Linked DNA regions of Homo sapiens. The protein of the gene in region 1 interacts with the protein of each later gene in a pairwise test. Each region holds a gene or a part of one and is shown on either strand. Other genes may lie near its edges.

What was found.
Region 2: the proteins of KCTD5 (region 1) and CD1A interact in a two-hybrid assay, tested with the Homo sapiens proteins (one large-scale study listed by BioGRID and IntAct).

What each region holds. Positions count from the first base shown.
Region 1 is NC_000016.10:2,692,423-2,696,228, forward strand, and holds part of KCTD5 (BTB/POZ domain-containing protein KCTD5), read left to right. Parts: intron 1-3,512; coding exon 3,513-3,621; intron 3,622-3,806. UniProt on the Homo sapiens protein: Its interaction with CUL3 suggests that it may act as a substrate adapter in some E3 ligase complex. Does not affect the function of Kv channel Kv2.1/KCNB1, Kv1.2/KCNA2, Kv4.2/KCND2 and Kv3.4/KCNC4.
Region 2 is NC_000001.11:158,252,895-158,257,248, forward strand, and holds the start of CD1A (T-cell surface glycoprotein CD1a isoform 1 precursor), read left to right. Parts: upstream 1-1,529; 5' UTR 1,530-1,775; coding exon 1,776-1,833; intron 1,834-2,189; coding exon 2,190-2,456; intron 2,457-3,109; coding exon 3,110-3,388; intron 3,389-3,891; coding exon 3,892-4,170; intron 4,171-4,354. UniProt on the Homo sapiens protein: Antigen-presenting protein that binds self and non-self lipid and glycolipid antigens and presents them to T-cell receptors on natural killer T-cells.

The DNA.
Region 1 (3,806 bases):
AGAAGCGGCCCCGGACTGGCTGGCTCCTCTCCATTGACTTCCCAGCTCTCAGCAGAGAGGGTAGCTTCCCTCTGCAGCTGGTCTTCCACTTGCCAATTGTCTCTGTCCTCTTTGTCCTCTGCCCTGCTCTGGCTGAGCCCAGGGCTCTTATGGACCCAGAGGGAAGGAAGTGCATACTAATTGGTTCATGGGCAGGCCCGGAAAACGCACCACAAGTCCCCACTTTGGTCCCCGGGACTGGCAGCCCGGCCCCAGCCTTCATGCCCTCCCTGGCCTGAAGGTGGGGCCTTACCGGGGACCTACCCCCTTCTTCCCAGGAATCTATCTGCCTCCTGCTGCCATACATGGCGCCTGGGCTCGGCCCCAACTTTGCTCCAAGATCGGAGCAGGCACCAACAATAGGAGTAAGCCAGGCAGTGAGAGCAGGCACTTCTGAGCCTGCAAGGGCCCGGCAGAGGGGCCTTTCTGGGCCCCCAAGAGTGCAGGGATGCCTGAGGCTGTGGTTTGGGCAGCTGCAGTTGTGGGCCTGCCTGCTCCGTGGAGCGGGAAGCCCGGGTCTGCAGCCATAGTTTGGGTGGGGCGAACCCCAGGGCTGCAGCCCCAGGCAGCCCCACGCAGATCCTCCTCCCGAGGCCCGGGAACCTGACATCTTCAGTGGGGTGGGTGTGATGGCTGTGCCACTGGCTGGGTCCTCACCGCTGGTGCCACTCTCACTACCCACCCCAGGCCCCCGAAGCACAGCCCCAGCTCTGCATCGGGGCCCCTCTCCACCCAACCATGCTGCTCTCCTGCCATGCTGAGGGCAGTGGGCTATGGTGTGGGGAGTGGGGTCTGTTCGCCTCCTCCCTGTTCCCTCCCTGCAGCGGCAGGTATCACGTGATGGCAGCAGCTGCACCAGTTGGCCTGCTGCTGGCATCACCGCACTGGGCCAGCTGTGGCCAGACTGAGGTCAGGAGTTCCTTCAAAGCATCAGCCACAAAAGCTGCCTCCTAAAGGGGGTGTTTAATGGAAAAGCCAGCCCCGCCCAGTGGTAGGAGTGGCCAAGACACGGCAGCGGCCTACCCCTGCCTGCCCGTCTTGAGGCCGAGCCCAGTGCCAGCACGCTCAGTGCCCTGCCGGCTCCTTGGACCTGTCTGTGTTCCTCTGTCCTGCTGTGCAGTTTCCGCCGATGGCCGTCCCCACCCTGCCCTCCTTCCCTCCTGCCTTCATCCTTCCAGTTGCAGGGCTGGGGTTGCCTCGTGTGTCTGGGGGCGCCCAGCACGCTTCCTTCTCCTCTTGCACCGGCCCAGGGCCTGAGAAGCACATGGTGGGTTGTCTTGGCCTAGAGGTCACGGCTCAGTGCCCAGGTCCTGCCACAGGTTGGGTGCCCTGGCACTCATGGCGGCCCCGAGCTACACGAGCTGGTCTCCCCCACCTTTTGCTCGTAAAGAAACTGAGGCTTGGGGTGGCCTGGCTGTGAGCCTGCAGTCTGACCACTGAGGCCAGGCCTGGAGGCCTCCATGGCTGACAAAGGGGTTCTCTGGGGTTGTCCTGGGCAGAGGCGAGCCTCCGCCCTATCTGATCTTTCCTGACCTCCTGCCAGCGGTCTGTCGAGGTAGCAGTGAGCCGTGAATAATTCCTGAGCTGAGCGGTGTGCGGACGTCACGCGGCCAGCATTCTCTCTGTATGGGGGTGGGGCAGGGAGGAACCCTGGACTCGGGTGGCAGCACTGGCCGCCTTGCCAGACTTGGGCCCCTTTGTGGGAAATGGTGTCCATTTTTTAGCAGTTGCGCAGGACCGCCCAGCGTCCTCTTCCCGGGAGCTGGCCCTGTGGCCCCGGCCCTTGCTTGAGAGCTGTGGAGTCTGGAGGGCTGGGGAAAGGCAGGGCCAAGCCCAGGAGGCAGGGCCTGTGGGGTGGGCAGCTCTGGCTGGAGTGTTCCGGGGGAGGGTGGGGAAGGAGGATAGGGTCAGGTCTGTGTGGAGCTGGGGTCACCCTAAGGAGTAGGGGGGCCGCCGAGGCTCCGGGTCCAGCGCCCCCATGCCCGGAGCCCTAATTGATTTTATCTCAGCCACAAAACTCAGTCCCTGTGATCTAAAAAGAGCAGGTTGTTGCAGGTTTGCGGTGGTGGACTTTGGGAAAATCTCTTGAGACCACTAGGTCTTAGCACCCAAATGGCAGAATTTGTCCATGGATGAAAATAGGGTCCTAGCGTGGCCCCGTGCTTTGTGGTGGAGACACCTTCGGCCTCCCCATATCTGCGAGCCTGGCATTCCCGTGGCCAGCGCCTGCCCATGGCCCCACAGGAGCCACCATCTGGTGAGGGGGCTGCTCCTGCTCCGAATGGGGTGTGGGGTTGCTTCTCCAGCGCTTGGCCCTGGGCCTCGCCGGGGAGGCTGCCGGTGTTTCTGAACGGAGGCCTCAGCTCCCCGGCCTCCAGGGCACCCGCAGGCACCAGCCCCTGTGGGAGTGGCTCGCAGGTGGGAGCAGGACCCTTGCAGGCATGTGGGGGGAGGCAGGAGCTGCCCCAGCAGAGCCACACGGAAGGTCTGAGTCTGTGTAGAAGACAGGCTGTGCCAGCTTCGCAGTCCCCCCATCAGATGTGTAGCCGACAAGACAGAAACTGCCTCTTCCGTCTCCCCCATGGGGGCTGCCTGGGGCGTCTGAGCCCCCGTCCTGTGTTCACGGCCGGGCCACTGGGGCTCTTGTGCTTTGTGGAAGGGGCTGCAAGGTGTGATGTGTGGGGCACCCCGGGCCTCAGAGGGCATCTGCCCACATTGAAGTGGCCGTGGTAGCAGCAGGGGCAGTGCCTCTCAGGGGTCCCTCCACCCAGGTGCGTGAGGACACCTTCCGAGGGGTCTGTTTTGTAAACATCTCGGCCTCCGTGAGCGCTGAGCCGGGGCGAGGGCTCTGTGAGGTGAGTGATGATCTTGGGGAAAGCCCCGGATGCTGTTGAGTGCCGGTCACTGTGGCCTCCCTCGCTGCTGGCTCCCGGCCTGTTGGGCAGCCGCCCCTGCTGAAAGGTGCCCTCTCCACCCCTGGCAGGAAGCCCCTGTCACCCTGACCCCCGGTTCCTGCATGTAGGCTGCGGAGGACCCGGGCACGAGGAGCGCAGGCCCAGGCTGGTGGCCATCAGAGGTGTCCTTCTGAGGCTGAGCCCTAGGCCCCTGCCCTGCCCGCGAGGGCATCTCTGGGTGAGGTTTTCGTGTGTGTTTTCCTAGAGGTCTTGCAGTTGTGAGGACAGAGGTCCAGGGCACAGTGGGCTCACCTTGGAGTACGCAGAGCCAGGCTGCCTCCGTACGGAGAGACTTAAACTCACTTAGACCTGGGGTGGTGGCTGGTCAGGGTTAGGCTGTAGGCGGCAGGACGTGGCCACACCGTCAGGGGTTTCCTGAGATGCCGCAGGCTCAGGTGTGCTGGGGAGAGGCCTGGGTAACCTGGTGCCTCTGAAGCCTCCTGAGGTGGCCGGGCCTTGGTGGACCTGCAGGAACCTTCGGCTTCTCACGGAGGACTCACCGTGCTCTGCTCTCTTTAGGATGAAACAGGCGCCTATTTAATCGACAGAGACCCCACCTACTTTGGGCCTGTGCTGAACTACCTGAGACACGGCAAGCTGGTGATTAACAAAGACCTCGCGGAGGAAGGTAAGCCGAGTTTTGGGCACAGGTGCCTTAGCTTTGGGGGCAAGGGCCCGACAAAGGTGCCAAGGGCTCCACTTAAGACACAGATGCCTGCAGCCTGGGGCCCCAGGGAGGAGCAGGCCCTGTACTCTGAAGCTGGGGCCGACGTTCTGGTGCTGAGGCCACGGGCAGCGGCGCAGCTGCCGGAC
Region 2 (4,354 bases), on another chromosome or scaffold:
CTCAAAACAAAACAAAACAAAACAAAACAAAAAACAAATAAAAAAATTATTTGCAGGCCATGCCTGGTGGCTCATGCCAACAATCCCAGCACTTTGGGAGGCTGACACAGGAGGATTGCTTGAGGCCGGGAGTTGGAGGTTACAGTGAGCTATGATTATTCCACTGCACTCCAGCCTGAGTAACAGAGTGAAACCCTGTCTCAAGAAAAAAAATTTTTTCCCCCTAAATTAGCTTCAGATACTTTTTTTTTGAAAACCAAAAAATAGTAAATAGCCCAGACACATTTATATGGATGATATCTACAAAGCACAAACATATATTTAGAAGCCCTTCAACAGTTACAAGCAGCGTAAAAGAGGAATGTAAATGTGTCCGGCAAAGACTCATTTATAACAAAACAACCCTGAAACATCCAAATAGGACTAATAAAAAGGGATCCTGGGATAAAGACTTTGGAATACTCCATTAACTTCACTGCTCACAAGTTCTGACTAGTTTCTTATAAGTAATAGGACATTTATAGCAGGATCTTTTATGTAAATCTCATGCCAGTAACTTGTACTTTTATCCTAAATAAAACTGTATGAGATTCTCATCTCACTACATAGGGTTACAAGTAACTTTTATGATATCTTTAAAAAGTTTCATGTTGAATATCACCTCCATAATTAAAAAATGGATGCATAGACTGAATTCATTCATTCATTTGACAAATATTCACTAAGCACCTACCACTTGTGAGATACTCTGTTAGGTGGGGATACAGTATGATAACTGTATGGAACTAACACTCCAAGTCAAACATTGAAGTCAAAATTCTGGGCTGGCGTACATTAGTTAGGAGCCCCCATTTTAGAAAATATTATTTCAAGCAGGCCTTGTTTTTATCCAGAGAGTGTATACAGTATAATAAAACTCAGTACACCAAGATTTATATTTCATGGCGTGTTTTTCTCCCTAAGTAGAGAAAAAGCTCCTTCAGTAAAGTGATTGTGTTGTCAACCACTGCATATTCTTAAGTGTACCAAGATGCTTGACTCCAGGCAGGTGCTAAGAGAGACTGTTGGGTGAGTGAATGTATATCAATGAAAATCAAACAGAGGAAATTTTCTTTATATGTTTTAGTGTTCCTGTGGTTTTTTTTTTTTTTTTTTTTTTTTTTTTTTTTTTTTTTTTTGTGATGGTTACTGGCTCTTCTCTAAGAATAATGGAGAAAAGGTGTTAGTTTGTACTGTCGCACAGGGCAGTCGTAGGAGACTCTGAAAAAGCAAATAAATCAATGTTAAATCAGAAATGTGAATGTAGTAAGGGGCTGAAGAGACAGGGGAAGAGAATACATGGGAAAATATTGAAAAGGACAGAGTGATCAAAAAGAGCAGGGACATGGGAGCATTGGGCAGCACACTGGGAGCCATTTCACTTTATGCTCTTATTGTATGATTGAGAAAAAAATGTCCTTAGTGGTTAAGTGGCTTTTCAATGCCACATCAGACTTGTTCCATAGCAGTTGAATTAGGGGAAGGTGAATAAGTTGGAGGTTGGTGACAAGGAGAGAAGCTGGAACAGAGAGGAGAGTCAGAACCAGAGGGAAATGAGAGACTGAGTAGGCATCTCAGGGTTTTTGAAGGAGTGGATTTTCTTTGTTGCAGTCAGGGGAGGTTTGTCTGTTGGCTGCAGAAAGAAGTCAGAATAGAGATATCGTGGGGTAGGTTTGTTTGGAACAGAAATCAAAGACCAATTTTTCTGAGAGAAGGAAATAACATCTGCAAATGATATGCTGTTTTTGCTACTTCCATTGTTAGCTGTTCTCCCAGGTGATGGCAATGCAGACGGTAAGAACTCTGACAACTGCCCAGTTGGGTGGTGGGTGAAGGTCTCTCTCTCTCTCTCTGTGTGTGTGTGTGTGTGTGTGTGTGTGTGTGTGTGTGTGTGTGTGTGGTTTCCCTAGCATATACCTGGAAAGTGAGAGTGCCAGGCTGGTTCCATTCTGACTATCCATGACTCCAGGTCCCTGAGCTCTTATGAAGGTGGTTGATAAGGCATGGGACTGTGTGGCAAGTGAATGTCTGCTAAGATCATGATGGATCCCCTTTTCTCCAGATTCTGAGTTCCCGCACTCTGGCACCTTTCTCTCTCCATCCTCTTTCTCAATGTCTTTCTCCCCATTCTATCTGTTCTTTTGTCGCAGGGCTCAAGGAGCCTCTCTCCTTCCATGTCACCTGGATCGCATCCTTTTACAACCATTCCTGGAAACAAAATCTGGTCTCAGGTTGGCTGAGTGATTTGCAGACTCATACCTGGGACAGCAATTCCAGCACCATCGTTTTCCTGTGCCCCTGGTCCAGGGGAAACTTCAGCAATGAGGAGTGGAAGGAACTGGAAACATTATTCCGTATACGCACCATTCGGTCATTTGAGGGAATTCGTAGATACGCCCATGAATTGCAGTTTGAATGTGAGTTCAGTTTTCTCCATGGAGAGTGGTGAGGTGGGAGAGAGGGGTTGTCTCAATGTTTCTTATTCCTTTAGGAAACAGCCTGACTCTCTTCTGTATCTTATTCTATTCTTTCCACCATAAAACTGCAATTGCATACTTTTGGGCAAGGGCTATCATCCAGACCTTAATTCTCCAAACACTTCTGCTACTTATGAACTCCTCTCTCATTGATTGCAGGGTTGTGCATTATTATCTTTTCTTACAGGTATCCCAGGACCACCCTTCTGCCTGCCCTACAACCAGATACCTTCAGCTTTCTCACTTTCTCATTCATTCTCTTCAGCAGTCTCTCTATATATACTCAATTGTAACCCATTGCATTTAATTCAACCTAAGTTGTTATAATCCCAGTTCTCTTACACCAGGTCCTTGCTCACCCACAGCATTCACATCACCTTCTTTGACCAGTTTGCCCTCTTCCTCATGTTATTAATCTTTTCCTCCACCTACAGCTCCCACCAATTCCTCTTTCTCTGAATCCCTGACCAAACCAAATTTTATTCCATTATGTCAAACCCTGCACACTTCCCCCTTCTGCTTCTATAATCTTTGCTTCTACTCATTTCATTTTATATTTTTTTCTCCCTCTTTCCTCTATTTCATAACCCCAGATCCTTTTGAGATACAGGTGACAGGAGGCTGTGAGCTGCACTCTGGAAAGGTCTCAGGAAGCTTCTTGCAGTTAGCTTATCAAGGATCAGACTTTGTGAGCTTCCAGAACAATTCATGGTTGCCATATCCAGTGGCTGGGAATATGGCCAAGCATTTCTGCAAAGTGCTCAATCAGAATCAGCATGAAAATGACATAACACACAATCTTCTCAGTGACACCTGCCCACGTTTCATCTTGGGTCTTCTTGATGCAGGAAAGGCACATCTCCAGCGGCAAGGTCAGTCCTGCACTCTCCCTCCAAGAAGTTTTGATTTGAAAATCATACCCTTCCACCACCTCCTTCCAATTTAGAATAAGGAAGAGCCACCCAGAAGTGGGAAAGGCTGGGTGCAGTGCCTCACATCTGTAATCCCAGTACTTTGGGAAGCTGAGGCTGGAGGACTTCTTAAGGGCAGGAGTCCCAGACCAGCCTGAGCAACAGAGTGAGACCAGTGTCTCTAAAAAATAAAAATAAGTTAGCCAGTCATGGTGGTACACACCTGTAGTCCCAGTTACTTAAGAGGCTGAGGCAGGAGGATCGCTTGAGCCTAACAGTTTGAGGTTACAGTGAGCTATAATTTATAATTATGCCACTGCATTGCAGCATAGTGACAGAGTGAGACCCTGTCTCAAAAAAAAAAAAAAGAGAAATGGGAACAATGTGTCTATCTAAACTTCTAAACTGTTGTGGAGATATGAAACTCCAAGTCTGTATTTGAATATCTTTTCTGTCCTTTGCAGTGAAGCCCGAGGCCTGGCTGTCCCATGGCCCCAGTCCTGGCCCTGGCCATCTGCAGCTTGTGTGCCATGTCTCAGGATTCTACCCAAAGCCCGTGTGGGTGATGTGGATGCGGGGTGAGCAGGAGCAGCAGGGCACTCAGCGAGGGGACATCTTGCCCAGTGCTGATGGGACATGGTATCTCCGCGCAACCCTGGAGGTGGCCGCTGGGGAGGCAGCTGACCTGTCCTGTCGGGTGAAGCACAGCAGTCTAGAGGGCCAGGACATCGTCCTCTACTGGGGTGAGAAAAAGCTAAGGCCCAGGCTGGAAATGCCAGGAAGTGGACCTCAGGCATAGAGGGAGGGCAAGCTGAAAATTTTAGGATTTTAGGGATTATAGCCCAAACATGAATAAAAATAGATAATCTAAGAAATGGAAATGTTGAAAATGAGGGCCCTGTAGATGCAGGAGGATGCTGAGGGTTA